Linked DNA regions of Homo sapiens. The protein of the gene in region 2 purifies or fractionates together with the protein of the main gene of each other region. This does not show direct contact. Each region holds a gene or a part of one and is shown on either strand. Other genes may lie near its edges. The genes, in order: SEC62, RAPGEF2, PRPSAP1, LAP3, WDR91, CTTNBP2 and ERI3.

Region 1 (4,197 bases), on a different chromosome or scaffold from region 2:
GAGCTTAGGTGATCCTCCCACCTCAGCCTTCTAAGTAGTTGGGACTACAGGTGTGAACCACCACACCCGGCTAATTTTTTGTAGAAACGAGGTTTCGCCATGTTGCCTAGGCTGGTTTCGAACCCTTGGATTCAAGCCATCTCCCTGCCTTGGCCTCCTAAAGTGTTAGGATTACAAGTGTGAGCCACTGAGCCCAGCCTTAAAGAGTTATTTTGAATGGGATCCTATCATACCATATTGACCAAGCTTATTTTAACTGCTACCTATTTTTTTTTTTTCTGTTTGTTAAATCATTCTTTCCCCATAAAACCTCCTGGAATACACACGTTAAAAAGCAAATCAAAAACAAATCAAACCCCCAGCACTTTGGGACAACGAGGCAAGTGCCCAGGAGTTTGAGACCAGCCTGGGCAACATGGCGAAACCCCATCTCTACAAAAAAATACAAAAATTAGCGGGGTGTAGTGGAGTGTGCCTATAGTTCCAGCTACTCAGTAGGCTGATGTGGGAGATCACCTGACCCCAGCAAGTCGGGCTGCAGTGAGCCATGATTGTGCCATTGCATTCCAGCCTGGGTGACAGGAATGAGACCCTGTCACAAACAAGCAAATCAAAAGGTATAGAGAAAATTAAGTCTTCATCTAATTCTTATTCCACTTCCCAGAGGTTAAGTACTATTAAGCTTACCTGTATTCTCAGAGACTGCCTATATATAATTAACTAGCTACAGGGACTTTTTTTCTAAATAAGTAAATGAGCTTATACTATTCTTACTCGTCTGTAACTTTCTTTTCTTTTTTTATCTATTCTAGGTATAATATCCTTGCACATGTACGTTTGTGCAACTGTGATTATGGCATAGGGTAAATTCCTTAAAGTGGAATTTATTAGATCAAATGGTATAAGCATTTTGAATTTGAAAGATATTTGCTAGATTATACTCAAGTATAGTCTAAGGGATTTGGAAAAAAACAGATAATGTGTCAATGCACACACTTTGTGCAACTGTATGGGAACAGCCTAGAATTGCTGGGTCACTGCAGACACATAAAATTTCAAAGATACTGACAAACTGCCCTTTACAAAAATTAAAACAATAGACATACCTATCAACTGTTAGAGAGAGCTGATTTTTTTCTAAGACCTTTAATGTTAAGGTTTGCAAGACTCTTAATCACTACAGCTTTAATTTGTATATGAGTGTGATTAAGTATCACTCATGATGATTGGTCATTGTATTTCTTTATCTGTTAACTACCTTGACCATTTTTCTATCAGTTTGTTAATCTCTTAAAAGATCTTTAATATGTTTCAAATATTTTCCTTAGTGTATTATTTATCTTCTGACTTTATTTAAAGTATTTTTAAAATGACAACTATTTTATGTTAAATTTAGGAACATTTTCTTTTACAGTATCTGCATATTGTTTTCTAAATTTTAGATTGCACTTTATAGCTATTAACATCTCACTACTTACCAAGAATTAATCCCATGACAAATGTTTTAAAGTGAACTGGGTCATAGATCCATACATACACCTAGAAGAATCAAGAAACCTCGGTGCTTAAAAGTTCTAATGTCACATTAGAAAGTAATGCTTAATTCTATATTTTAGGTCCCTTAAAGCAGTCATCAACCTCTTAACATACGAGAAGTAATTTCTAAGGTAAATAAATTCCAAAGATCTTTCCTTCAGTAGTAGTGGTTCTTCTGGCGCTAGAAAATGATTATAGGATAACTATAAATTCTATAAAGCACTTAAGTAAATTTGTATGTTCTTACATACACTTAAAAATTTGTTTGACTGGGCTTGGTGGCTCACGCCTATAATCCCAGCACTTTGGAGGCCAAGGCGGGCAGATCACTTGAGGTCAGGAGTTCAAGACAAGCCTGGCCAACATGGTGAAACCCTGCCTCTACTAAAAATACAAAAATTAGCCAGGTGTGGTGGTGGACGCTTGTAATCCCAGCTACTCGGGAGGCTGAGGCAGGAGAATTGCTTGAACCCAGGAGGCAGAGGTTGCAGTTAGCTGAGATCACACCACTGCACTCCAGCATGGGCGACAGAGCAAGACTCTGTCTTGGGGGAAAAAAAAATTGTTCCATGTGTGCACATCATTATTTATTCAACCAAAACACCAGCAACTGCCAACCTTTTTGTCCCTAATGTAATGATGAACCAGTCTGGGATAAAAGCGCAGTTAAGACAGATTCCAGCCAGGCCCTATTACAGATCTAGTATCACTCAACTCCACACTTTTCTCTCCTGAGAAGACACAAAGATCAATTATTAAAGATCATGCTTGGTGAACATAGTCTCTATGACTGTATTAATTTCATTGCCTACTCCTCCATGGAGGGCCCATAAGCTGGGAACCACTACTTCAAAACTTAATTTACTTTTATCAGGCTCTTATTTTACACAACAGAAATTTACTTCATTCAGATCAGAACTCTGTTTGATCATTCATCCATAAAACTCAGTTTTATTTCTTAGTTTCTATAAATAACAGTACTCTTCCCTCTTATTTCTATATTGACCAGAACTCTTTATTGTCTTTCCAACGTGGTTCTTCAATTTTTAACACCAGAGGTTCCACTTTAACCTCTTATTTTACTCTGCCCATTTCCTTGGGAATCAGATTCACAGATATTACTTCTGCCAGTTTCCATTCTAAAAAAACATGTTTTTTTAAAAAAGATATTTCACAACTTTAAAAGTTATGGAGTGCATGCTGCTTTCTACAGAATAAAATCTAGGCTTCTCAGGATACCAAGCACCCATGCGTTTGCTCAGGCTGTTTCCTTCCCTAACAGACCTAACCTCCTTCCTGGCACGCCTGGCAATCTGCCAGTCATCTTCAAGTCTAAGCTCAAATGTCCTTTAGACCCTTCTTATCCTTCCTGACTAAATTAACTATTCCTACCTGGTGCTTTCACACCATTAATGCTTACCACACTGTACTATATTAACATGTTTAAGTGCCTGTATCTTTGCTAGACCATTAAGAGATTTTATCCTACTTATCAAGCTATTCCCAACGCCTATAAAAATAAAAATTTCTATTACAGTGGTTCTCAACAAGGGGTTCACATCAGTCACCTGAGGACACTTTATTATAGATATATAATCCTCCCCCACAATCCCACTCTAGATAGTCTCATGCAAGTAAGAATTTCAAACACACAACCCTAGGAGCCATGACTTTATAGATGTTACTATTGTATAGGTATAACAGGAAAGGATATATCCTGAAATTCACAACAGTTCAATGCCCAGTATATAACTCATGTTTACGTACTGGTGAAGTGACTGAATTAAGCAGTCTTTATGGAAGGCTACCACCATACAAATCTTCCATTACAAATGATAAGCATAAAGCATCAAGAAATGTTAAAAATTTTAAGCCCCTCAAGTGATGTGTCTGACTTACATTCTGTAAGAGATAGAGACTTGTAGCTATCTCCTATTCTGCTCTTTTTTCTTTGATAATAATGGAAACCCTACATTTCGGCTGGGCAAATAATCATCCTGTATAAAAAGTGCATTTCCAAGATTTTACTTCTCATATGCATGACCATGTGACTATGTTCTGGCCAATGGAATTCAAGCAGAAATGAAATTACCAGCTTTCTGGACAGTGTCCTTAAACTGGTCTCCTTAAAGAGGAGACATATTCTTCACTCTCCTTTCCTCTTTTCGATGCAGATATAAGATTGGCAGTCATTCTGGACCATAAGGTAACCTTAGCTAGAAGCCTCAGACAGAGGAGAAAAGAAGAGCTGGGATCCACCATGGAGCTGACGTATCTGTACAGCTTACCTACAGATTTCACTGATAAAAAAGAAATAAGCATCTATTTTGTATTAAGATGCTTTTATTTCAGGTTTCCTATCACTCACAGTCAAATCTGACTTTTAAAAATCTAAATAAGAGAAATTATTGATTTTTAAAAATGGAGTAGCTTTTATACATTTAAGAGCATAATTAGATTTCTCAAAATTTTTCCTTTTATTAGTGAAGGCATCAAACATCTTTCTAAAAACTCCTATAGAAAACTGAACTTCTAGTTATAGGCTTACTCTCACCTCATTTCCATCCAGAAAAACCTGATCATCATGTGGCTCAAGTTTGAATTTTTTCTTAGTTTCCTTCTTTTTAGGAGTTCCTGGAGTTTCCTCCTATGAAAACACAA
Region 2 (4,197 bases):
TCTTCACAGTATTTCACATGCAAAGGGGAAAGGAAGAAGGGGAGAAGAAGCCCCATGCTGCTTTTAAGGCAGGGAAGGAGGCAAACTGGTCCACCGTCCTCAGAATGTGAGTTCCAAGGCTCCAATGCTCAGGACGTCTTCTTGTGCTCTCCTTTCAGGTGGCTCGCTCTGCTTCCAGAAAAGTCTGTGCCTCAAACAGCAGAAACTTGTTCATCTTCTGCAAATACAGCAGGGAAGAAAAAGAAATCAATGAGCAAGCAAGTAATTTCTTGTGCTATAGAGAATATATTCACTGATGTGCTAAATAAAACTATCATAGTTATTCTTTTTAGTATAGCTCACTTAGAATCCTTGTCTTTTTTTCCTAAACAATGACGAACAACAAAAAGGTTAAAATGTATGCAATACATATCTTTACATATATACACACAATATTAAAAAGATATGCATTATATATTTTTGTTCAGAAAGTTGTTAAATTCATTTTAAAAAGTTGTAAAATAGCATGTGCCATTTAAAAAAAATATACGATCAGATACACATAAAAAGTCTAGAATATATAACAACATTTTAATAGTGGCTATCTGCAAGTGACAGGATTTTAAGTAATTTTCATTTGTAATGTTTTTCTATTTATTTAATTTAATTTAACTTTTTTGAGACAGGGTGTGGGTTTGCCATCCACAGTGCAGTGTTCTCGGCTCACTGCAACCTCCGCCTCCCGGGCTCAAGCGATTCTCCTGCCTCGGCCTCCCAATCTCCCAGTCACGTGTTGCTTTTTTCTATGATTGTGTAATCAAACATGTTAAACTGAAAACTTTAAAGAAGATGGGAGGCCATGTTCTCCTTCCTCATTCTCAATTCAGCATGGTCAGATAGATTTGTAGAAAGAACGCACAAAGAGTTATAAAGAATGTGGGTTCCTTCCTTCCTTCCCTTTCTCCCTCCCCTTCTCTCTCTCTTTCTTTTAGAGACCGGGTCTTGCTCTGCTACCTAGGCTACGGTGCAGTGGCACAATCATGGGTCACCACAGCCCTGAACTCCTGGGCTCAAGTGATCCTTCCACTTCAGCCTCCATAGTAGCTAGGACTATTGGCACACGCCACCACGCCTGGGTCATTTGAAAAATATTTTTATGGAGACAGGTCTCACTATGTTGCCCAGGCTTGTCTCGAACTCCTGGCCTCAAGCAATCCTCCCACCTCAGCCTCCCAAAGTGCTGGGATTACAGGCATGAGCCATCAGGCTGGCTGATAATGTATCTTTCTTTATCAGACTTTCATTTCCAAATGAGTCCCAATTCATTAAAAGCGCAAATATAATGTTTCCACAGAAAACTTTAACCATCCACCTTTGAGAATCCTACATGCTTCTAAAATTCTTGACAACAGCACAAACTTGTGAAATTTTCATTTTCTTTTCCTTTTTTTGAGACAGAGTCTCACTCTGTCACCCAGGCTGGAGTGCAGTGACATGTTGTTGGCTCACTGCAACCTCTGCCTTCCGGGCTCAAGTGGTTCTCCTGCCTCAGCCTCCCGAGCAGCTGGGATTACAGGTGCCTGCCACCATACCCGGCTAATTTTTGTATTTTTAGTAGAGACAGGGTTTCACTACTTTGGCCAGGCTGGTCTCAAACTCCTGAGCTCAAGTAATCTGCCCTCCTCAGCCTCCCAAAGTGCTGGGATTACAGGTGTAAGCCATCGCACCTGGCCTATTCTTTTTCTTAAAATAGGGTCACAGAAGTACTTCAATTTTAACGAGAATTAGAAAAGAAATCAAGTCATATAAACACTGTATTTTAAGTGACTCCCTCCATAATCTTTGGGATTTTTTAAGCCATTTAGGGAAACACACATACACAGACACACAGAAAGCAATCAAATTTTAGTGAGAATTGGAGAAGAAAACCAGTTATATACACACTGTATTTTAAGTGACTCCCTCCATAATCTTTGGCATTTTTAAAGCCATTTAAGGAAACACACACACACACACAAAAGAAAGCAGTCAACAGCTGTAACCCTAAATTTGGAACTCTGAATGTAGTGTACTTTGTGTAGTATATGGTTAGACATAGCTGACTGCAGTGTTAAGAGAACAGAAATGCCTTGGGAAGCAGCACAAGTGAACACATCTAACTTGGAGGTTTTAGGAATATTTATGTGCATATACCATCCTCCTCGGTGGAAAACCCTTGGGACTGATAGGGGGCGAGGCGCGGGTCAGACTCGTTCGGTTTATGCCACTGAGGTTTGTTCACAGGCCTGCTGCTGGTGGGATGCCCATGTGGCTGCTGTACGGATGAAGGCCCAGCTGTGTCGGAGGATCGTGCGACCATCCGCGATCTCTGAAGGGCCACGTTGTAGTCCGGCGGTTTCCTGGCTGGATGGGAGTGCCCTTCTGGAAAGTCAGTAATGGGAATTCCAATGTAGCCGGGAGGGGTGGGCGGGGGCTCTCGATACCTGCCCTCCTTTCGTGCTAGAGTAGAAACAATGCACCAGCATTAAAAACTAGTTCATGCCACAAAAGTTTATTAAAAATATAAAAATAATTACTAAAACAGCATCCACAGTGTAGCAGCAGATGTGCATTTGCATGGTATCGGTTAGAGGTGCGGTGTGAGGCAGGCCAGGGAATGCATGTTAACTAAACCAAATTTCACAATGATGTTATCTTTGTGTGGTGAAATAATTGGTGAGAGAAGCTGCTAGTCCATCTAAGTACTTTTATCTTTAAATGGGCTGCTTGTCCATTTAAAATGGTCTGTAACTATAAAATAGTAAGATTAAAACCTAACCCCTGGATTTATTGGAAAGACTGAAGCACAGGAAGAACCTAAGTACACAGCACTATGCCTAGAACCTGTTTGTGCTTGGTACAAGTTCCCTTTTTCCTCTCTGCCTGCCGGATCTGCCCTCTTTCTGGGCATTTATCTTTACCAGGCAGAGAAGCAATTCTACATCACTCTCGGGTCTCAAGACTTCACTTACAGAAACAGTGAATTAAAATAAATTTGGAAAAGTCGCACAAAGGATACCAATTTAAAAATTCTAAAACTATTACTATAAGGTGTCTATTTTTCTTAAAATCCCTTTATTGATGCTCATGACCTAGAATATGAAACCTGTATAGGCCAGTAAAACTAAAGTTTCATTTTCTTGAACTTTTAAAACTCAATTGTTAGGAACTAAAAATCATTCTTCCTTCCTTTGCAATAAAAATTCTGAGTATTAGTTGTAAGCACTTGAAAAAGTCCAACCTAAGAATATTTATTAACTGTTTTCTCCTTATTCATTGTAAAAGGATATTAAACTTGAAATCTACCCATGACTATTTACATGGCTAAATAACTACAATTTTCCTACTAATAAAAGTAATGTCCGTAATGATTATACTCCAGAATTTCTCACTCTACAACCTATCATCTGTTCCTACACTTCGTCTATATAGATGTTAATTGTGCCATAGAAAACACATCTCAACAGGACTGAGGGCGCATGAGAGCCTCTTCTAACAGGAACAGCAGCAGCAATAGCTTTCATGTACTTAGTGAATCTACTATCTGGGCACTGTTCTAAATACTTTGCATAAATTTCCTTGAATCCTCACACTAACTCCATTAAGTAGAAATTATGAAGCTCATTTTACAGATGAGGAAACAGGCACTGTTTTGTATTTTACCCAATGTCACAAAACTAATAAAGTGGCAAAACAGGGATTCAATCCCCAGTCCGCCTGACTCCTAAACCCGTGCTCTTAGTCATTACACTATTAGCACCTCTCCCTCCTTCTACAGCGTGCACAAAGAATTGCTTATCAACAATGTGCGTGCAGAATAAAAATCAATGGAAGACTTTTAAGTATACAAAGCGTATAGTTCTAAATACAATCAAGAGAACAAAATAGAAGAATCAAAGATATAAAAGAGTTTCAATTAAAGAAAAATTTCTCCTCTATGAATAATAGGAATCCATCCTGATTTTCAGGTTAAGAGAAAAAAATTAGACTAGATAATATTCACAATGACAATCTACTCATCCTGATAGCTAAGATTTATTGAATGTTTTGTTATATAGGAACAGATCTGTAGGTACCTGACCACAAAACCTGGGCTCTTAACCACTATTGATTTCAAAGACCTTAACACACCACTAATTTGGAAGTCCTACATAGCAATGGAGAAAATGAGGAAAAGAA
Region 3 (4,055 bases), on a different chromosome or scaffold from region 2:
GCCGGGCGCAGTAGCTCACGCCTATAATCCCAGATCGTCTGAGGTCAGGAGTTTGAGACCAGCCTGGCCAACGTGGTGAAACCCATCTCTACTAAAAATACAAAAACTAGCCAGGTGTGGCCGGGCGCGGTGGCTCACGCCTGTAATCCCAGCACTTTGGGAGGCCGAGGCGAGTGGATCACGAGGTCAGGAGATTGAGACCAACCTGGCTAACACAGTGAAACCCGTCTCTACTAAAAATACAAAAAATTAGCTGTGCGAGGTGGCGGGGGCCTGTAGTCCCAGCTACTCGGAAGGCTGAGGCAGGAGAATGGCGTGAACCCTGGGGGCGTAGCCTGCAGTGAGCCGAGATCGCGCCACTGCACTCCAGCCTGGGCGACAGCGAGACTCCGTCTCAAAACAAAAAACAAAAAACAAAAAACTAGCCAGGTGTGGTGTCGGGCATCTGTGATCCCAGCTACTTTCGAGGCTGAGGCAGGAGAATCGCTTGAACTTGGGACGTGGAGGTTGCAGTAAGCCGAGATGGCACCACTGCACTCCAGCCTGGGTGACACAAGACTGTCTCAAAATAAATAAAACAGATAAGATAAAACAAAATCTTACTGAGCGACAAGTAAAACAGGTAAGGGAAGTATTTATGAATATGTATCATTTATAGTAATTCAAAATCTTTCGGGAATTTGCCAGGAAAGAATCTAAAACAAACAAACAAAAAAAACCCTCACTGACTTTTAAAATGTGCCCTGCTCCCCTCTGCTCTCCCTCAAGGTCAGGTAGGGTAAATCTGAACCACTAGATACACACAGAAGCTTCGTTTAAAGTCAGTGTTTTCGTTGGCCTCAGAAAGAAAGACAAACAATCAGGGGTTAGAAATAGAAACTAGGTAGTAGACTGCAAAAGGATTGATTTGTTTTTTTAACATTCTTCCACTCTCCAAAACTCCAACTATTAAAAAAAAAAACAAGCAGAGCTGAAAAAAAAATGACTAAAGTTTTCCCTTTCTTCTACATTTCCCCCCAGAAGTTTAAGATATATCCCTGCAATCATTTGTCAACCCTAAAAAAGTAACGAAGTAACTCTATGAAAACTGTTTAAAATGTGAAAATGGCTTTAAATATTAAAAGACGAGCTATTCATTTTATGTCTTAGATTTCTAACAAGTGTATGTAGAAAGGGCATATAAGGCTCCTCCTTTATATCAGAGCTCTGGGATTCTCCAAAAGAGCCAACTAGAAAAGAGGCCATTTCACCGGGCGCGGTGGCTGAAGCCTGTAATCCCAGCACTTTGGGAGGCCGAGGCGGGCGGATCACGAGGTCAGAAGATCGAAACCATCCTGGCTAACACGGTGAAACCCAGTCTCTACTAAAAATACAAAAAATGAGCCGGGTGTGGTGGCGGGTGCCTGTAGTCCCAGCTACTTGGGAGGCTGGGGCAGGACAATGGCGTGAACCCGGGAGGCGGAGCTTGCAGTGAGCCGAGATCTCGCCACTGCACTCCAGCCTGGGTGACAGAGCGAGACTCCGTCTCAAAAAAAAAAAAAAAAAAAAAAAGAAAAGAAAAAGAAAAAGAAAAGAGGCCACTTAGTAAACAACTATTCAGAGGGCCACTATGAGCCCCTACTCTGCTAGAACCAGATACTACTTCTACATTATCCCGATCATACAATATTCTCAACCATGCCCATTTCACAGATGAGGTTCAGGGAAATCAAGTCTCTTGCCCACTGACACAGAGCTAGTAAGTGGCAAGGCTGGGAGGGCATCTCAGAGCTGTCAGACCCCAAAGGCGACTTAAGACCAGGGGCTTGGTTGGGTTAAAGACACAAATGACTGATCTTATCCCAAGCTGATTTACAAAGCAGGGTCAGGCCTGTCATTTCTACCACCAGCTCCGGCCCATCTGCCTCCCTGGAATTGCCTTCTTCGCACTGCCAGTCCCCACACCTTTGCTCTGCGACCGCACCTGCCGCGTCGGATCCCCCAACTCACAACCACGCCCGCGGGTCTCACTGCAGTGAGACTTGAGAGTGGCGGCGGTCAGATTCCCAGGTCAACTCCAGCCGTGGGAAAGGAAGCCAAGCCCTGAGCCCCTTTCCCCAAGACACGCACTCCGGGGCTCCAGAAAGCTCGGCCCGCCCCGGGGTGTGGGACTGCGGAGACGAAAGGCAGGCAGGCCGCGGACCCAGTCACGGGGCGGGGGGCTGAGGTCACCGAGAGTCCGCCCCAAGCCTCCCAGCTGCAAAACCGGGGAGCGGGGGGCGGTATCCGTCACCTCCAAGCTTTGTCCGGCTGGGAAGGCCCGCGCCTCCCGCCCCAGGTGCAGGAGGTGGGGCGGGTGGAGGGGAGCGGGTCCCTCCGGGCGCGAAGGAGAGCTAGGCGCCGCCGCCCCCGGCCCGGCCCTCCCACCGCCCCCTTACTCTGTGATGCGCTTGGCCAGCTCCGTGCAGGCGGCCGTGGAGTTGGCCGAGAAGACTCGGTAGCCGGTGCGAGCGGCGTTCATGGCCGGCGGGGGAACGGGGCGGGCGCGCGGGACGCGGAAAGCCGAGGACGCGGAGGGCGGGGGCAACAGCAGCAGCTTCTTGGGCATCGTCCGGCCCGCGGCGCGGTTACGACCGGCCCCGCGCGGGGCTGCACTCTGAGTGCTTCCGACTGCGAGACCCCGGTTTGGGTGGGGAAGGCGCTGAGAAACTCGGCGCAAGCGGGGAGAGCTCCGAGGTCCGTGCCCTTGCGCACCCCACACCACTGACTACAGCGGCCGAGCCTTCGCAGCGCCCGGCGCCGCCGCCTCAGAGCCAGAGGCAAGGCCACCGCCCCCTCCGGGCATCCGAAGAGCGTCGGCTAGAGCGCCCTCAGGCCGCCATCTCGGATGAGGGCAGGGAGCCTGGCGACTCTCTAAAAGCCTGTTCTTCCGAGGGGCATGTCACAGGTTCGCCCCGCCCCTGCTTTGACCGCTTCCACGGGAGCTCTTTCGGTCTCACTTTCTTGGGAGGAGCAGCCTACCTCGGTAGTGGCCCCAGGTGTTTCCAACTTTTTGGCCAGGACCCAACATGTCCGCCTCCGAGGAGGTATACGATCTAGCTCTGCATGTCTATGGTAGCACAGCGCCCGCCCCACGAGGCGCGTGCGCCGGCCGGAGATTAATTTGAAAAGTAGAGGGCGGGGGTTCTTTCCAGCTGGTTGACCGCAGTACTGAAGCGGCCAAAAAGTGGTCTTCTCCTGAGCCTGATCTTTCAGGCGTTTCCGAACAGATCCCCAACCCTGTGTCTGCGTGTAAGGCAAGGTTCCCTGAACGTGCCAAAGGCCCTCTTGCCGGTATTCGCTTTCAATCAAAAAAGCCCTCCTTCTCCTCTTTCCATATGCGCCACCCCTCCGAGACCCACTCGCGATGCGTCTGTTCCACAGTCTTTCTGGTGACCTCAACCACAGTAAGCCGCCCGGCCCGCGGGACTGTGCCACACGTAGATGCTTGCATTTTTTAAATTTTTGTTGTTGTTGTTATTGTTTTGATGCTTGCATATTTATGTACCTTTGCAAACATCTATTTTCCTAACTAGGATGTAACCCATTTTACGGCCACATCGTGAGTTCCTTTTTTTTTTTTTTAATTTTATTATTATTTATTTATTTTTTGAAATAGGGTCTCCCTCTGCCGCCCAGGCTGGAGTGCAGTGGCGCGATCACGGCTCACTGCAGCCTCTACCTCCCGGGCTCAAGCCATCCTCCTACCTCAGTCATTCAAAATGCCGACATTACAGGCCTCAGCCATCACGCCCCGCCAAGATCGTGTATTCCTGAGTGCTCCGTGTTACCCAGTGTATAGGGCAGTGTGTGGGCTCCAGAGGCCCGCAATCAGTACTTGTTGAAGTAGAAAGTAAAGCCCAGGGAAGCATTTGAGATCTCTAGTTATCAGCTGCACCAGAACTCGAGGGGAGGAGAGGTGCCTCTCACATTGACAGTACCATCTTCTGAGAATGTCCTTTAGAGACTCTGCTTGTGGTGACATTGGGCTTGAGGGAGCAGTAGATTGTGACTCAGCATGTCGTGAAGGACCACAA
Region 4 (4,197 bases), about 140 Mb from region 2:
GTCCCTTTTATGATCGTTTCTTTTTTCAGCACACTGTTGCTGGCTTGAATTCTTTTTAAAATTTAAGAAAATAGAGACAAGGGTCTAACTATGTTGCCCAAACTGGTCTCAAACTCCTGGCCTCAAGCAATCCTACTGCCTTGGCCTCTCGGAATGCTGGGATTACAGGCATGAGCCACTGTGCTTGGCCTGTGGTCATGTTTCTTACTTCAGTACTTCAAATAAATTCTACATCCATTCAAGTCACTGAACTGAAAAAGAGCACTGCAGTGTACCAGTGCAGCAGCCAGACCACCTGGCTTGAACTTTGAGCTACCAGTTACTTGCTCTGTGACATCAGTGGCATGTTACTAAACTTCTCTTGTGCCTCGTTTCCCTCATCCGTCATATGAGGGTAATAACAGTACCTGTCTCATTGGGTAGGACTCAATAATTTAACACCTGAAAACACTGAGGACAGTGCCTGGCAGATGGTAAGTCAACAATGGTTACTATTATTCTGACTGATTCATTTTGGAAATCATGGGCCAAGCCACTATTACCCAAACTGATGAGCTCAATCCCTGAGTACCTTTAAGTGATGAGGAACATTGAGAAAATACATAAGCCACTGTGCCCCAATTTAATTACATAGTTCATACAACATGGCTACAGAGACGAATGATATTCTAGTAATAAGTTACTGGGTTTGTAGCAATATGTAAGTAAATATCAGAGCCACACCAGAGAGCACAACAAGTTGCATTTATTGTTTCTGACAAGTGCATAGTAATTTTCAGTTTGCTCATGTTCCTAGCATCACAAATCTGAGTTACAATTTTGCTTCTCAATGAAAAACATATACTCTGAAAAGTGATTAGGAAGTTCTAAAAATTTTAATCATTTATAGAGTATCTTAAAAATCCTTATCAAGTAAGATATTAACTTTACCTTTATAAATCTTTGTGTGAAATGAAAAAAAAATCAAGGCATACAAATTTCATTGTGTTCTACATTTTTAAATACCATCCTTTGTCTCCGTTAAAAGATTTTCATCCATTTATTCAAAAACCTTTTAAGTTCAACTGTCCAATTTAAGACAGAGTGAAGACATTTTTGAGTATCTGAACTAAGCATTGTCTTGACTGAAACGAAGTAAGAACTCAATGAGAGTCCTTGTGGGCCTCCCAGTCATGCCTTTCCGTAGATAGGGAACTTCATCTTTGTTGGTCATCACGCCTGCTATGTCTAAATGTGCCCACTTAGGATGAGTTACGAATTCTTTCAGGAATGCTGCAGCTGTACATGCTCCTGCAGATCTGAAGAGAAAGACAAAAAGCACTTTACAACCCCATGTAAATGTGCACTGAGATCCCACATTTTTGCTAAGTACATTCTATAACCAAAGAACAAGAGTCAAGCTTGTAAGACCTATTAAGATGCTAACCCACATATCAGTTTCAGAATATTTATTTTCAGATATTGCTTTAAGCAGTAAAGGATAAATTCTATATTCCTTTTTGCTATGGTAATGAATTCCCATATTTTCCATCTCTTTCCCTTACCATTTATTGAAAATTACCATTAGATTAGAAATATGCAAATTTTGAAATCTGGTTGAAGAAATACTTGAAAATTCAAGACATTAAAAATCTTACAAGCACTACACCAAAAGGAAATTAAATAGTTAAACCTTTTATATAAGGGGATAAAATTGAAAATAGCTATTTTGGCAATCAAGGATGATTGTATAAATGTACATTTAGCTTAGCTTACATACCTGTATTTTCCAATGTTGTTAACATCAGCAAGCTGGCAATCTACAACCTGTCTTGTATAATGTTCGAAGAGAGGCATCCTCCAGACACGGTCCCCTGTTTCAATGCTGGCCTAGAGAACAGGTATGACAGGTGGAAGAGTGGATGAGGCAGGTTGTGGGAAATTCATGGCATTAACATGCTCAATGCATGAAGGAAGAGTTGTTCTAACCTGTTACTCTAAAACATGAAACTAGAAAATAGGTTTCAGAATTGTGTCCACTCATTAAAAGATTTATTTTAGAACTATAAAAGAAACCAGGAGGCTGGGGACAGTGGCTCACGCCTATAATCCCAGCACTTTGGGAGGCCGAGGCGGGTGGATCACGAGGTCAAGAAATCGAGACCATCCTGGCCAACATGGTGAAACGCTGTCTCTACTAAAAATGCAAAAAATTAGCTGGGCGTGGTGGTGCGCGCCTGTAGTCCCAGCTACTCCGGAGGCTGAGGCAGGAGAATTGCTTGAACCCAGGACGGGGAGGTTGCAGGGAGCCAACGGAGTGCCACGGCACTCCAGCCTGGCGACAGAGCGAGGCTCCGTCTCAAAAATAAATAAATAAATAAAAAATAAAAAGAAACCGGGAATGCTGTGAAGCAATTTCACAAATCTGTAGGGCATTTTGCTAAAATCATCAAACTACAATTACAGGCTTTGTGGGTTGATGAGGGTGAAAGAGTTCTTATGTGGCGGGTCACTTCTATGTGACAGAAACACACGACTGGACCTGTATCACTGAAATCCTGAGACAGGATGACCACATTCATTCATTCATCACTTACCCACTCACTCATTCATCGTTTACTGAACTACTGAGCACCACCAGGTGTGCTGAAATACTACCATCTGAGCCACCCAAGGGCCTACAGGCTAGTAGGAGAAACAGATACATAAACAGATTATTTAACTCACTGGTAAAAAATCAAAGACCTAAAAGTGAAAAATCAAGAAGCAGCAATATAAGCTGTTATTTTAAGACATAAGTAAATACCAGATGAATCAGCCAAGGGTTGAAAGTGGCTGCCTTCTGGAAAACAGACTGTGGGCTGCTGATTGTTGATTTATGCACATATAACTGAGATTTTTTTTTTAAAGCTTAAATGTTTTTTAAAAGTCAAAACAACAATATTGTGGGTGCCATGAAAGAGAGGGATAACGGTTATGTGGGAGGCCAGAGGAGAGGTTCCTGGCCCGGCCTGGAAGAAGATGATGGGGCTGAGTATTGCAGAACTGGGAAAATTGGGCTTCGTGAATGATGACATATATGAAGGAGAAGCAGTTTAGAGTGAAAATAAGTTTAGACCTTAAACCACCCTCAGGATTATATTTGGGGACATTTTATGTTTGTCTCCCCTCCCACTGGCACAGAGTAAGCTCCCATTAATTACTAGTTGAATGAATGAGTAAGCAGCCAGCTGGAGCTGTCTAGCAGCCACATGGGTACACAGAGGCTGGGACTCGGGAGAGAGATGGGAGCCATCAGGCAACATGTGTTGGCTGGAGCTTCCATGTGAGGAATGTGTAGAGTAGGAAGAGCCTATGGCCTTGAATTGAACACCAGCCAAAGGGCGGCCAAAGGGAACAAACACGTCAGGAGACAGGAGCAGGAGAATCACAGGAGGCAGCCCAAGAAAGGATTATCACAGAAGCTGAACCAGGTGTCAGGAGGCCACAGAGTCACCTGCTGCCTCAAGACAGGCTGAGTTAGGCTAACAGTGGTGTGGACATTCGAAAACCAATGGCAGTAAGTGAGGGTGTGTGTGTGTGTGTGTGTGTGTGTGTGTGGAAGTGAGGGTGACTGCTGGGAAGAGGCTGGCTGTGAAGGGCATGGAGGGAGGCACAGAGCACAGCGGTCTGAAGACATCCTCATCGATGCAGGGTGAACTCCCTTATATGACTCACGACACGCAGTCACAAACGCTGCTCCACAAAGCCATCTTCAAAACCATTTCTACCTCAGGGATTCTAAAACTATGACCACAGTGTTCGTGAGATATTTTCACAGGACGCTGAGGCTACCGGAGGGGAGCAGGGGGCATCATCCCCTCCTTTAGGAGCATTTGTGGAAAACCCAATGCCACTGAACTCAATCTATTGCTGTGGTTCATTTTCAATTCAAAGGCAAACCTGCGGCATAAAAATCACTTTAACACAGGGTTGAAGAAGTCTATCCTTCTAAGGCTAGAATAATTTATTCACCATCTCTACAATTTAGATATACAAATATTATTCCTACCTCGAAGAGTTTGTTCCAGAGCCAGGATGAATTGGTAAAGACCCCAGTGGCACCTGATCCCAAAGCTACATCCATGGCACCTGTAAGACACAAGCCCTCAGGTCACGTGCAGTCTCTCCAGGCAAAATGGGCTCCTCCGCCACCCAGATGGAAACCTTAGCATGTAC
Region 5 (4,708 bases), on a different chromosome or scaffold from region 2:
TGACCTTGTGATCCGCCTGCCTCCGCCTCCCAAAGTGCTGGGATTACAGGCGTGAGCCACCGCGCCCGGCCTATTGTCACCATTCTGCAGAAGCAAGTCTCAAAGATATTGGCTATTTTCCTACTTACAAAAATACGTGCACCTTGTAAAAACTTCAACAATAAAAAGAAAGTAAAAAACAAGAAGTCCTTCATAGTCTCACCTCTCAGATAAAACCACTCCAATTGTCACTTGGTATCTGCAGGGGGTTGGTTTTAGGACCCTCCCTAGAAGACCAAAATCCATGGATGCCCTGATGTAAAAAGGCCTAGTATTTGCATCTAACCTATACACTTCCTCCTGTATACTTTAAATAATCTCTACATTGCTTATAATACTGAATACATTGTACATGTTATGTAAATTGTTGTTATGCTATATTTAATTTGTGTTTTTAAAAATTGTATTCTTTTTTAAACTGAGACGGTGTCCTGCTCTGTCACCCAGGCTGGAGTGCAGTGGTACAATCACAGCTCACTGCAGCCTCGACCTCCTGGGCTCAAGTGATCCTCCTGCCTCAGCCTCCCAAGTAGCTGGGACCACAGGCAGCACCACCACGCCCGGCTAATTTTTTTTTTTTTTTTTTTTTGAGACAGAGTTTCGCTCTTGTTGCCCAGGCTGGTATGCAATGGCGCGATTTCGGCTCACTGCAACCTCCACCTTCTGGGTTCAAGCGATTCTCCTGCTTCAGCCTCCCGAGTAGCTGGGATTACAGGCATGCGCCACAACGCCCGGCTAATCTTGTATTTTTAGTAGAGACGGGGTTTCTCCATGTTGGTCAGGCTGGTCTCAAACTCCCGACCTCAGGTGATCCGCCCACCTCGGCCTCCCAAAGTGCTGGGATTGCAGGCGTGAGCCACTGCGCTCCGCATTTTTTTTTTTTTTTTTTTTTTGTGGAGATGTGGTTTCGTCATGTTGTCCAGGCTGGTCTCCAACTCCTGGGGCCAAGAGATCCGCCTACCCTGGCCTCCCAAAATGTTAGGATTACAAGTGTGAGCCACTGCGCCCGGCTATTTTTTATTTTTAAAACTTTGGAAAAAATATTTTCAATCCTCGTTGGTTGAATCCGTGAATGCGGAACCCGAGGATGCAGAGACCCGACTGCATAGGAACTTGGTGTATAATCTTCCTGAATTTAAAAAATGTACACACATACATACCTAATTTTTTTTTCACAAGAAACCAGGACTATAGCGTACATACACTGCTATGAAATTTGCCTATCCTAGCAGTGCATCTTGGTTATCTTGCTGTGTAGCCAATTCGTCTTACTAATGAAAGCAGAGATTTGGGGGAGTTAGCGCTCTCTGAGGACACGCGTGTTGTGGCTTCACGCAGGTCACTCTGCTCTTAGGGCTCCAGCTTCCTCCGTGTAGGAGGAGGGCAGGGGACCGGGAGCTCTGCGATGTAACGCCAACCAACAGGGCGCCGCACCCCCTGCCCGCCTCGGGACTACCTGGGATGTTCTTAAGATCCAGTCTTGTTTGACGTGGGTGGCAGCCGCCACTTTCAGTAATTCAGACAAAGCCGCCGCCGGCGCCGCCAGGACCTCCCCTCGCCACTCCTCGGGAGGGGTAAGGGTGACTCGAGCGGCCAGGCGGGCTGGGGCTGGCTCAGGGGCGGGGCCTCGGGCGGGGAGCCGGCCGAGGGGCGGGGCCTCAGGCTGGTCGCCCAGTGCGTGCGGGCTGGTAGGCCTGTCGCGGCGTGACGTGCTCGGCGCCCGCGTCCGGCCCCGCCCCATTTCTCCCAGGCCCCGCCCCTCCGTCCCTCACCGCACCACCCCTAAAGACGCTAGCGCTGCGATGGCGGAGGCCGTGGAGCGCACTGACGAGCTGGTCCGGGAGTACCTGCTCTTCCGCGGGTTCACGCACACACTGCGGCAGCTGGACGCCGAGATCAAGGCGGACAAGGAGAAGGGGTTCCGGGTGAGAGGCCGGCGGGAGCGGCGCGGGCAGAGGCGGCCCGAGGGAGCCGGGGAGCGGGCTTCCCCCCAGCACTGCCTCCGGGGCGAGAGCGGCGCTGTCACTCGCGCCGGGGCGCCGGAGACCTCAGCGCGTCCGACCCCAGCTTGACGGATGAGGAACTGAGACCCTCAGACGGACAGGACCTGCCTGAAGCCGCCCCCCGAGTCAGGAGCATCGCCGAGGCTGGAGCCCCGATGCCCCGGCTCCTGGTCTAGGGTTCTGTCTCCACTCCAGCCTCCTTGGCCAGGATGGCGATGAGGTTTTAGGAGCCGAGGTTAGGTAGATGGTTGCGTTTTGGCAACAGATATTCGTGTTGGCTTCCAGTGGCAGTGGAAGCAAAGAAGTCTGCAGTCCAAAACGTTAGCTGCGTTCAAGTATCTGCGGTGTTTGTTTAAAATGGCCTCGTCAGGGACTCATCGGCAATTTTGCTTCTGCAGTTGTGGAAGACCTCATGGCACATTAGAGAAACCCAAACTTCCCCTGCTCTAAAATGATTTTCCATTGCGAGGTTCTTGGAATGTATATGTGTGTGATTTGTATGTTTGTGTGTACTGACTTCAATGAGAGGCAGTGAGCTAACAGCAAGAGCACTGGAGGGGAGTTAGGAGATCTGGTTTCCTGCCTGGCCAAAGTTAGTGGCTACTTAGTGGCAAAAGCAAATCATTTCACCCCTCTGGGCTTCAGTGGCCTGATCTATAAACTAGGGGCATTGGATTGGTATTGATATCCAAACCCTTTTCCAGATTCTGTACTCTGCTGTAATTGCTCCTCACAAGAAGGTGACTTCCTTGGCTGACACTCTGAGCAGCTACCACGGCTTCGTGGAACTTTGATGACTTGAAGGAGTCAGTCCATGCACCTCCTCATGATCCTTGGGATCTGGGAATTGTGGAGATTGTCTCATAGCTCTTCTTCACCCCACCCCCTTTTTTAAAAATGTGAGGTAACTGAAACTACAGTTAAGCAACACTGCCATTTTTTTTTCTTTTTTGACAGAAAGTCTCACTCTGTCGCTTAGGCTGGAGTGCAGTGGCACGATCTCAGCTCACTGCAACCTCTGCCTTCTGGGTTCAAGCGATTCTCCTGCCTCAGCCTCCCGAGTAGCTGGGATTACAGGCGCGTGCCACCACGTCCAGCTAATTTTTGTATTTTTAGTAGAGTCGGGGTTTCACCATGTTGGCAAGGCTGGTCTCGAACTCCTGACCTCAGGTGATCCATCCACCTCAGCCTCCCAAAATGCTGGGATTACAGGCGTGAGCCACGGTGCCTGGCCTGATGACACTGCCAAATTGATCAAGTAAGTCAGAGGCAGATCCAAGATCTGGAGCCAGATCTCTTAGGTTCTGGGCCAGAGCCCTTTTACACCTGAAATTTCCGTGCTTGCTAGAGGGTCAAACCACTTCTCTAACATCAGAAAATTACTGAAAAACCGTTGCATTAGTATGTTTTGAAAATTTTATAGATTGCTAACTTACAAATTTTTTTTTACACCCAGAAGCCATGACAAGAGGAAAAAGCTTTATTCCATGGAGGGGAGAATTCCCTTCTGTCCCTTACCACCTTCTCCATCCATGTTTCTCGCCAGGTGGATAAGATTGTGGACCAGCTGCAGCAGTTAATGCAGGTGTATGACTTGGCTGCCCTTCGGGATTATTGGAGCTACTTGGAGCGTCGGCTCTTCAGCCGCTTGGAGGATATATACAGACCCACAATCCACAAGCTGAAAACCAGCCTGTTTCGATTTTATCTTGTCTACACAATCCAGGTGCCTGTTGATTCAGGGGTTCTGCTTCCCTTGGTGGAAGGAGCTCTTTGATCCCAAAATAGATTTTCTTCCAGTTCCTAGGGAGGAATCTGTATGTGACTATGGGAAAGAGTGCAGCAGTTACAGTGCAATTATTTTTGACTGTTTTTCTTCTTTTTTTTCCTTGTCGTCATCTGTAGATCATCTGACTTGTCTTCCCCATTCCTATTTCCTTTTTTATGTTAAGCATGTAAGCTTAAAACAAAGGTGGTATTTTAAAGAATATAAGTAGCTGGGTTAAAGTTTGAGTAATAAAGATGATAGCTGACCTGGAGGAATGAGTCACTTAGTTATTTGAACATCAGCTAGGGATTAATTTTTAGGATGGGATTTATCATTAGAACTTCAGCTTAAACCAGCTTTGAAATGACAAGTTCCTTGAGAAAAGAGTGATGATTTCCTTTATATTATGGAATTTTATTTTGCCACTTACCTGGCAGGCTGATAGTCAAAGGTTGTCTGCTGTGCAATGATGAAGAGTCTTACCTCTGGATTTCTGTCTCTCCTCCCTCCTTGCTACCTCCTTGTGTCTTGGCAGACAAACAGAAATGACAAGGCTCAGGAGTTCTTTGCAAAGCAGGCCACGGAACTCCAGAACCAGGCTGAGTGGAAGGATTGGTTTGTCCTGCCCTTCCTGCCATCCCCGGACACCAACCCCACCTTTGCTACCTACTTTTCTCGACAGTGGGCTGACACCTTCATTGTGTCCCTGCACAACTTCCTGAGCGTCCTGTTTCAGTGCATGCATATCCTTTCAGTTGCCTGGGGCTGAAGGCCCAGCCTGAGGCACCCAGACCTCAGGATCAGTAGCCCGCTGGTCTCCATACAGGCATTTCTTCTACAAAAATGCCCAGGGACCATTTTTATGGGTCACATGAGGGGGCTGGACAAATTGTGGTTG
Region 6 (4,197 bases), on a different chromosome or scaffold from region 2:
TCAGCAAAGTAGGGCAAATCATTTCATCTGTTTGAATCTCAGGTTTTCCATCAGTAAAAATAAGGATGCTGGAGTAAGTGATCTCTTAAATCTCCCCCATCCCCTAAATGTCCTGATTTCATGTACCATCAGGGTAACTGGATTACTGGACTGAGGAAATTCATTTAGGTCATTTCCTGAGCCTAAAAGCGTTTGTGAGGTACTTGAGGAAAACTGATTTTGCCTCTTTGCTCAGAAGTTAGAGAAATGTATTTTCCTCCCAGTTTAATAGTGCATGCCAATAATAATGCATTTAGAACTTTCTATGTAAGCAAGATTTATGCTTTGGGGATGAATAAGGGCTATCAAAAAGGAAAAGCAATGAAATCAACTTGAAAGTTCACCATCACAATGCAAAGGCTGTATCACTGACATGCAAAATATTAAATTCACCTCTCTAGGTACATAAGAACATGCACTATATTAAGAATTCAGCTAATTGTAAGGGTTTTCATGAAGAAAAGTACATACTTCTCAAGATCTCAAAGTATTTTCAAATCTCTGAAGTTACTTCTTGCCTTGAGATTATCTTCCCGATTTCTCTCTCTACAAGGAGGAAAGAATTTTTGTGATGGGGTTGCATACCTCTGATGCTGCTCTTCCTAATCCTCCATTCTCCTCTGATTCATCTGGGTACTATCTTTCTTCAGCACATAGCTCAAACCCACTTTTGAATGTCTTTCCAGACTCCAGAAATCTCTTGTTCTCGCCATTCAGTCTTAAAATCTGCTCTATTACTTCACTTGGCAGTTAATCATGTCCGGCCTTGTGCATTTCCTCATAGTAAACTTATTATCTCTATTAACTCTATTTTCTCACTCCTACTAGATGTGTCAGGACAGTAAGAACATTACTTCTTCACTTATTTTATCCAACATGCTCCCCCTGCCCCCACCCCACCATATACACTTTGGGTATAAAATGTCTACTGCACACAGTATGAAAACAGAAAGTGTGCAAAGGATGTCTCAGGTACATCCATCTTACTAAGATACAATGTTTCAGCCCACTCTAGGGGGAACTAAGTAACTGTATTAGATGATTCTCTCAGTGTTTCAAAAATCATTTAGAGTAACCTAAACTAGGGAAGCTGCTTGATGTTCCACTTTAAAACAACATATAGTACGAGAACATGAGATCTATTTGGTGTCAGCTCTCCAAGGTCATGCACCTCAAATCAACCACACTGTCTGGGGTCTTTGATGCAAGACAAGAAACTCAGTGTATTGAAAGGAGGTAATACTGACAAGGAAACAATGTCAGGAAGGAAACCTGGTAATGGATGTAACTAATTTTAGCTGAGAAAGCTGGAAAGAATGGCAGAAAAGTGGCTCAGGGGTGACAGCCTCTGATAATTAAGCTCAGCTACCTCCCTTTTCCTCCTTTCAGATCTCCCCGCAGTCTCTATTTCCTCCTTAGGGAAAAAAAGGACTACATCTCAAATAAAACAAACATCTATTTTCACCCTAACTCAGTTTTTCGATGTGACATCAGCCCGACATGGGACATGGATCAGCTCCACAGGCAAGCAGACATTCAAATGTAATAACCATCCTTTAAGAAGCTTACAATGCATTAAAGAATAGTCTTGATTATCTGTAGGTGGCAAATATCTGCACGCTGATTTTCAAATGAAAAGGCTGGGCCAGATGAAGACGCAGGCCTTTGGAACCATCTTGTCTTTTCAATGAAATATAAAAATGTCAAAACCAAATCATCTGCAAACAAGTACTCACTCTACACAGCAATGTTACCTCGACTACTCTACATTTACTATAACCTTTTAAACTGATCCCCAATGTATTAGTTGGTTACTAACAATTTATTTAAAGAGAGTATCTCCCCCTACTCTAAAATCAGGATTTCTATATGGAAGGCATCATGCTGTACACGGCATTAATAATATGATCTCATTATTTGTGTAAGTTATTTAAAACATTAAAATTTTAAAAATCTTTCAATATCGATGTCATCATCATCGTCTCTCGTACCTGTCCTCTGATTCCTTACCTAACTACCAACAGAAAAGACAAATCTTTTTCCATGTTACATAAGCTTTGCAAAGGAGCACCAACAGAGAATAATGTAATCGAGTATGTTCAAATAAAGTATCCTTCTAAAGCAATACTCAGACAGGCCTGGGTAGCAAAGTAAATGAAGTTGGGGGATACTGCTCCATCCTTCCTAGGCACATTCAAAGTTGAAATTCCAGTCCCACATTTCTGTGAAATTGCAGACTATTCTAAAGCCTTGCCTAAACTCCTTTTTTCCTGCCCATTCTTTCCTTTTATTCCCCTTTCCTGTTTCCAAACTTCCCCACATTTCTCTTAACCCCCTATCAATCATCCTCTCCTCCACACCCCAATGGGTGATGTGGCCTTGACTCTTATTATTGGAAGGATGCAGGATGGTAGAGGTGCAGCCTCAATCATCATTTTGAAAAGCGAGAATCTAAAGAGAAAACTAATAGTGTTGGAAATTAAACTTTTAAAAAACCCCTGCAAAGAATCTAAGAAGTCATTGAGAAAAGCAGCTTGGAAAGCGGCAGTATTAAGATGAAAATTTTAAAAGAATTAGGGTTATCTTTTTGGATCAAGATCTATAATATCTATAACATTAATTATTACAAGTCACAGGCCAATAATTTCACTATAAGATAGCTGGTAACACACAAAGTGAGTTTTCTAATTAGCCAATCAACATTAAATTTTATGACACAGCTTCTTGGTGAGCTTCTTTTCATTTTCTTCATTCAGTAAATATTTGTGGAACACTTACCATGTGCCTGGCATTGTGCTAACCACCTTTGCTTTCTTTTACAAACTTCACACAACTCTCCTCGGAGGAGGAGGCTGCTTTCTCCCAGCCACAGCCTTCCTGTCCACATGATCAACAGCAGATATTTGTAAATGTCTAAGTACCAAGGCTGTGAAACATTTTCTCACCTCATAAAGTTATGAGAAACACACAAGGATAGAACCAACTGGTAATCTAGCCCAGGCATGGATTCAATCACTGAGAGGACAAATGTTCTCTAAACAAAATTGCTGCTGTGAGAAATACAATAACAATGACAGCAACGACAATAATAATAAAGTTCAAAAACTGGGGCAAACAGAAATCTACAACCTATTATTTAAGAAGAAAAAAAAAAGAGTGAAAAGCAGGACACTGAAAACAGTTATATTCTCATCTTTGGAAAAATATTCCAGTCAATTTCCTCAACTTCCAAGCTATTTTTCTGAACCATATAGCTGAGACCAGAATGGGAACCTCTATGCTCATCACTGAAAACCCTTCGCATATGGCTCCCTAGGATATGACCACATTTGCACACTCCTTCTTGCAGTGCCGGTCCAAATCCTCCTTCAGTCTCAAGGACTACTTCAAATGTCATCCTTCTATGGAAGTTTCTAGATCCATCCACTAGGGACCCTCTCTATGACTGTTCCTCTCCAAACTTCTAATGCAAAATCATTTTTGCCTCTCATGACACCATCATCCCCAATTTGATTCCTTGGCGTATGTCAGTTTCTATCACTGGAATGTATTACTTTAGGGTAGCAAAGATCATACTCATGATGCCTGTATCTCAGTAAGTGTTCAGTAATGTGTGTTAAATCTACGTTATTTCCTATTTAAAAATTAAGCTGCAACACTTTCAACATTCTATAGCTGCCACGTAACTATAATTTAGTTTAAAAAAACGCTTAGCGCAATTGGCTACGAAAGTTCTTTTCAGTGCATTTACATTCAATACTGTCACCTGGAAAACAAAAATTTCAAGTTCAGCTGTTAATTTGTTTAACATCACTGTCGTGCATTTTAAATCATTGTCCAAGTTTTTCTTTGTCACTGCCACCATGACAACAAATTTTATACCTACTTCTTGTCTATTAGCTGCTCCAGAAAAGCTCAGAATGACAAGAATGTTGGTTGGCTTCCCAAATATAGCTCTAAAAAGATCTCCATTTTCCTTTCATTCCAAAATTCTTTGGTGACAATAAAAAGCATGAAGATTTCGTTTTCCATACTGCCTTATCCATTAGGAGTTATTTTCAGAGTGGAAACAGCAATATGGCCTATAAAAGTCATCACATTTGGCTAAGGCACTGAAAATAGCCCAGGTTTCCCGGCACGGTTCACGGCAAAGACTAT
Region 7 (3,541 bases), on a different chromosome or scaffold from region 2:
CATGGTTTATGGGCCGGACACGCACCCCGCTCAGCTGAGGCCCCATCATTTGTCTCTCTTAGTGTGTGTGCCTATGCTTTGGGGGTAGTGGGTGGAGGAGGGAGGGGCTGTGCTAGGCAGTTGACAGGAAGGGGAATGGGACCGGAAGGGGCCTAAGAGGGGGAAGGGTTAGGATGGGGTCCATGGGCTGTGGTAGTGCCAACAGAGAGACTATGATAGGGTGATTTTCTTCCCAAATAAGTCTGGCCCTATCAGGGAACCTCCAATCCTTCCTGTCTCCGGTACCCTAGGGACCGTGGCCGCTGTGCATATTAAGAATAAGTCCCCTCGTTATCTGCAATTACCCAGCGGCCACACACCTCATTTCTTCCAGCAGAAAAGAAAATTAGTTTTCTATTGACTTCATCTGGCTCCTCCCTCATTGCTGGACAAATCGTTCAATTTGCTTCCCCTGGCCCAAGTGAATGTCCCAGCCCCAACCCCCAGGCCACCAGCCATCCAGTGGGCAAGCACTGTTCTCCCACCTGTGCCTGGCCCTGTGCTGGGAGAGGGTCCCCACGTCCCAGTCTCTGTCCTTGACCTCTCCCCACTCTACACACTGGATGGCTTCATCTAAATCGTGAGTTTCAGCTACCCGCTAAAGATCACCTCTCCAGCCTGGACAGCTCATAGGCTCTACACCACATATTCCTGAACATCTCTTTCTAGATAAACCCTAAACGTCCAATCACGAGCTAATTTTCTCTCCAAGCTGCTGCTTACCCCTCACCCTGCTATGTTCTCCATCCCAGTGAATGGCACCATAATCCACCCAAAATGCCCAAAGAAATCTGAGTCATGTTGCCACTTTGCCCTCTCCCTCACTCTCCAAATCTAATCAAGTATGAACTTACGCAGATTTTCTCTTCTTCTCTGCCTAATCATCTTGGATTACAACAGCTGTCCTCTTTCTCCCTCAAATTCATTCTCTTACAGCCAAACTGATCTTTCTTACATAAATCTGATCATGTTCTTCTTCCTTAAAGCCCTTCAGTGGCTCTCCTTGCCCTCAGTTTAAAGTCTACACCAGTAATATGTCTTAAAGGCTCCGCAAAAATTGATCCCTGCTATTTCTGGTCTCTGCCATGCTCAACCCTCAATCCCTGGACTCCAATCTCAAGGACCCACTCACTGTTTTCTGAAAATGACAAAGTGGGTTTTGGAGCCAGAAAGACATGTTTCCAATCTTAATTTCACCCACTGGCTGCATACCACACAGCAAGGGCTTAGCGTCTCTAATACTTAGGTTCCTCCACTAGGGTGATAATGGCCTTGCTGTTATTGTGAGGACCAAACAAGGTGTTGCACCCACATCTTTGCACATGCTGTTCTTTATGCTTGGAATGCCTCCTCTTTCTGAAGAAAAGGCAAGGAAGCTAGTTTTCTGGAGGACCTAGTGGTGAGAAAGTGTATACAATTGATAGCACAGATGACTGATAGGGGCCAGCAGACTTAGTGAAACCAATTGGCATTCACTCCAAATTCTGACTTCAGATCCTGTTTACTGGGTATTTCTGGGGTCTAACTTGTTGCAACTGGCCCACTACAATAAAGAGAGACCAGGGAAAGGAAGAAATTTGCTCCAGTTCACCTAACAAGTCAGTGGAATGGCAGTCATGGGCTTCTAGCTCCAGGCTCTTTTTCCAGCCCTTGAAGCCTTGACAAATATATATATATTTTGTTTTTTAAAGTCTATGGCCCTGCTAGAAAGTGAGGAAGCTTGGCAGAAGAAGCACTAGAGACAGATCTGGGGCTTTTAATAGGCCAAAAATTCAGAGAGAGAGAGCAGCAGGGTGTCTGGTGGCAACACAGTCTCTTGGAAAGTTTTCTGCTTGAAGCTCTGGGGGCCACCTGGGTTAGCAGGCTTGCCTTCCAGCACCTCTCATTGAGCTAAGGAGGCCAGCATGAAGCTGCTGTAGGGTGGGAGTGAGGTGGCAGGGAGCACAGCCTTGCACCCACAATAGAGGCCTCCAAGAGGCCTCTACCTCACCTTCAAATTCTAGAAGGCTAACCTTTGGTTTTGTTTCATTTTGTCTTGCTCTGTTGCCCAGGCTGGAGTGCAGTGGCGTGACCTCAGCTCACTGCAACCTCTGCCTCCAATTCTTGTACCTCGGCCTCCCAAAGGGCTGGGATTACAGGCATGAGCCACCATACCTGGTCAGGCTAACCTGTTTTTATGTTTCTGCAGGATCATCAATTTGTGACAAGATGACCCTCTCCTCTTCTTTTTTGGGGCATTAATATTCTCAGTGTTGGAAATATTTTTATATTGCCAAGACCATAATGTGAGGAGTGCAGCTGCATAAATCCCTGAGAGAAGATTAGTGGGGCTAGCACCTTACAAGGAAAGACAAGCTTGTTGGCTGGGCCCAAGGACAGTCAAATGTCTGCCTGACAATCTCCACACAGAAGGGTTGCTCAGATCACTTAGGACACCCAGAAAGAGCTCACAAAGGGCAAACAACCTAAGGCTGATATTCTCCATTAGCGGTACTTACCTGGGAACTGAGTGGCAGTGGACAGGAAGCAGGGCCTGGGCTAGGGAGACCCTCAGGAGGAAGGGGACCCAAGAAGTTAGAAGTCCATTCATTCATATACTCATTCATTCAGCAAACATGCGCTGACACCTTCTGTATGCTCAGTGATCTTGTACCATATGGCTTCTGAGGGATGTGCAAGACTCTGTAGCTCCCTGCCTTCAAGGAACTCAAAGACAGCCCTGTCAGGTGTGCAGTGCTATGAGAAAAGGACGCATGGAAAAGTTATCTAGTTCTGTTTGAGGATTAAATATTCCAAAGTTAAGCAGAGGTCTTAGGGGATGGGGGAGGGAGCTAGCCCACCTTGTTAGGGCTGGGGTGAGGAAGGTGTTCAATAAATAGTACAGGCACATTTATGGAGGTGAAATGTGGAGTGTCCAAATAAGTTTATCAGATGGGTGGGGGGATGAAGAATCAGAAGGGAGTGGCAACGAGATGAAGCTGGTGGTCAGTGACTGACTAAAGGGAATCCTGAAGAACCTAAATGCTAAACTAAGGAGCTTAAGATGTTAATATTCTGAGAATGATGGACATTGACATGTTTAAGGAGGGGAATGACAGTACCAGATCTTGTTTCAGAATTATGATCCTAGATGTGAGGACAGGATTGGAAGGATTAACCCTGAAGGCAGACAGATCAATTAGCAGATTGTACTATGGTCCAGACCAGAAATAATGGCCCAGAACAGGCCAGTGGCAGTGGAAATGGAGGAGAAGATCTATTGATGATGTGGGGGAAGTGGATGGAGGTAAGAGAATTTTTAGGAAATAGAACGAGCAGTCCTTAATGGGGGGATTAGGACAGCACAGGGGGAGCATCTAGGATCTCAGTGCCACTCACTGAGATAAGGCATACCAGGGAAGGTGCAAATTTGGATGAGTTAAGTCATATTCCTATGGGACATCTAAATTTGTCAGGCATTTCTTTATGGTTTCTAGGCTAATGTCTTGCTTCTCTATCTCAG

What was found.
Region 1: the proteins of RAPGEF2 (region 2) and SEC62 purify together in Homo sapiens (affinity purification with mass spectrometry; one large-scale study listed by BioGRID and IntAct). This does not show direct contact.
Region 3: the proteins of RAPGEF2 (region 2) and PRPSAP1 purify together in Homo sapiens (affinity purification with mass spectrometry; one large-scale study listed by BioGRID and IntAct). This does not show direct contact.
Region 4: the proteins of RAPGEF2 (region 2) and LAP3 purify together in Homo sapiens (affinity purification with mass spectrometry, with the first as the bait; one large-scale study listed by BioGRID). This does not show direct contact.
Region 5: the proteins of RAPGEF2 (region 2) and WDR91 purify together in Homo sapiens (affinity purification with mass spectrometry, with the first as the bait; one large-scale study listed by BioGRID). This does not show direct contact.
Region 6: the proteins of RAPGEF2 (region 2) and CTTNBP2 purify together in Homo sapiens (affinity purification with mass spectrometry, with the first as the bait; one large-scale study listed by BioGRID). This does not show direct contact.
Region 7: the proteins of RAPGEF2 (region 2) and ERI3 purify together in Homo sapiens (affinity purification with mass spectrometry; one large-scale study listed by BioGRID and IntAct). This does not show direct contact.

What each region holds. Positions count from the first base shown.
Region 1 is NC_000003.12:169,983,147-169,987,343, reverse strand, and holds part of SEC62 (translocation protein SEC62), read right to left. Parts: intron 4,184-4,197; coding exon 4,091-4,183; intron 1,540-4,090; coding exon 1,479-1,539; intron 1-1,478. UniProt on the Homo sapiens protein: Mediates post-translational transport of precursor polypeptides across endoplasmic reticulum (ER). Proposed to act as a targeting receptor for small presecretory proteins containing short and apolar signal peptides.
Region 2 is NC_000004.12:159,354,134-159,358,330, reverse strand, and holds part of RAPGEF2 (rap guanine nucleotide exchange factor 2), read right to left. Parts: intron 2,479-4,197; coding exon 2,173-2,478; intron 218-2,172; coding exon 192-217; 3' UTR 1-191. UniProt on the Homo sapiens protein: Functions as a guanine nucleotide exchange factor (GEF), which activates Rap and Ras family of small GTPases by exchanging bound GDP for free GTP in a cAMP-dependent manner.
Region 3 is NC_000017.11:76,351,117-76,355,171, forward strand, and holds the start of PRPSAP1 (phosphoribosyl pyrophosphate synthase-associated protein 1), read right to left. Parts: upstream 2,801-4,055; 5' UTR 2,588-2,800; coding exon 2,418-2,587; intron 1-2,417. UniProt on the Homo sapiens protein: Seems to play a negative regulatory role in 5-phosphoribose 1-diphosphate synthesis.
Region 4 is NC_000004.12:17,604,501-17,608,697, reverse strand, and holds the end of LAP3 (cytosol aminopeptidase), read right to left. Parts: intron 4,111-4,197; coding exon 4,031-4,110; intron 1,870-4,030; coding exon 1,760-1,869; intron 1,299-1,759; coding exon 1,109-1,298; 3' UTR 728-1,108; downstream 1-727. UniProt on the Homo sapiens protein: Cytosolic metallopeptidase that catalyzes the removal of unsubstituted N-terminal hydrophobic amino acids from various peptides.
Region 5 is NC_000007.14:135,208,636-135,213,343, reverse strand, and holds the start of WDR91 (WD repeat-containing protein 91), read left to right. Parts: upstream 1-1,817; 5' UTR 1,818-1,841; coding exon 1,842-1,964; intron 1,965-3,588; coding exon 3,589-3,768; intron 3,769-4,345; coding exon 4,346-4,553; intron 4,554-4,708.
Region 6 is NC_000007.14:117,866,614-117,870,810, forward strand, and holds part of CTTNBP2 (cortactin-binding protein 2), read right to left. Parts: intron 1-4,197. UniProt on the Homo sapiens protein: Regulates the dendritic spine distribution of CTTN/cortactin in hippocampal neurons, and thus controls dendritic spinogenesis and dendritic spine maintenance.
Region 7 is NC_000001.11:44,223,229-44,226,769, forward strand, and holds part of ERI3 (ERI1 exoribonuclease 3), read right to left. Parts: intron 2,776-3,541; exon of another isoform or gene 2,538-2,775; intron 1-2,537.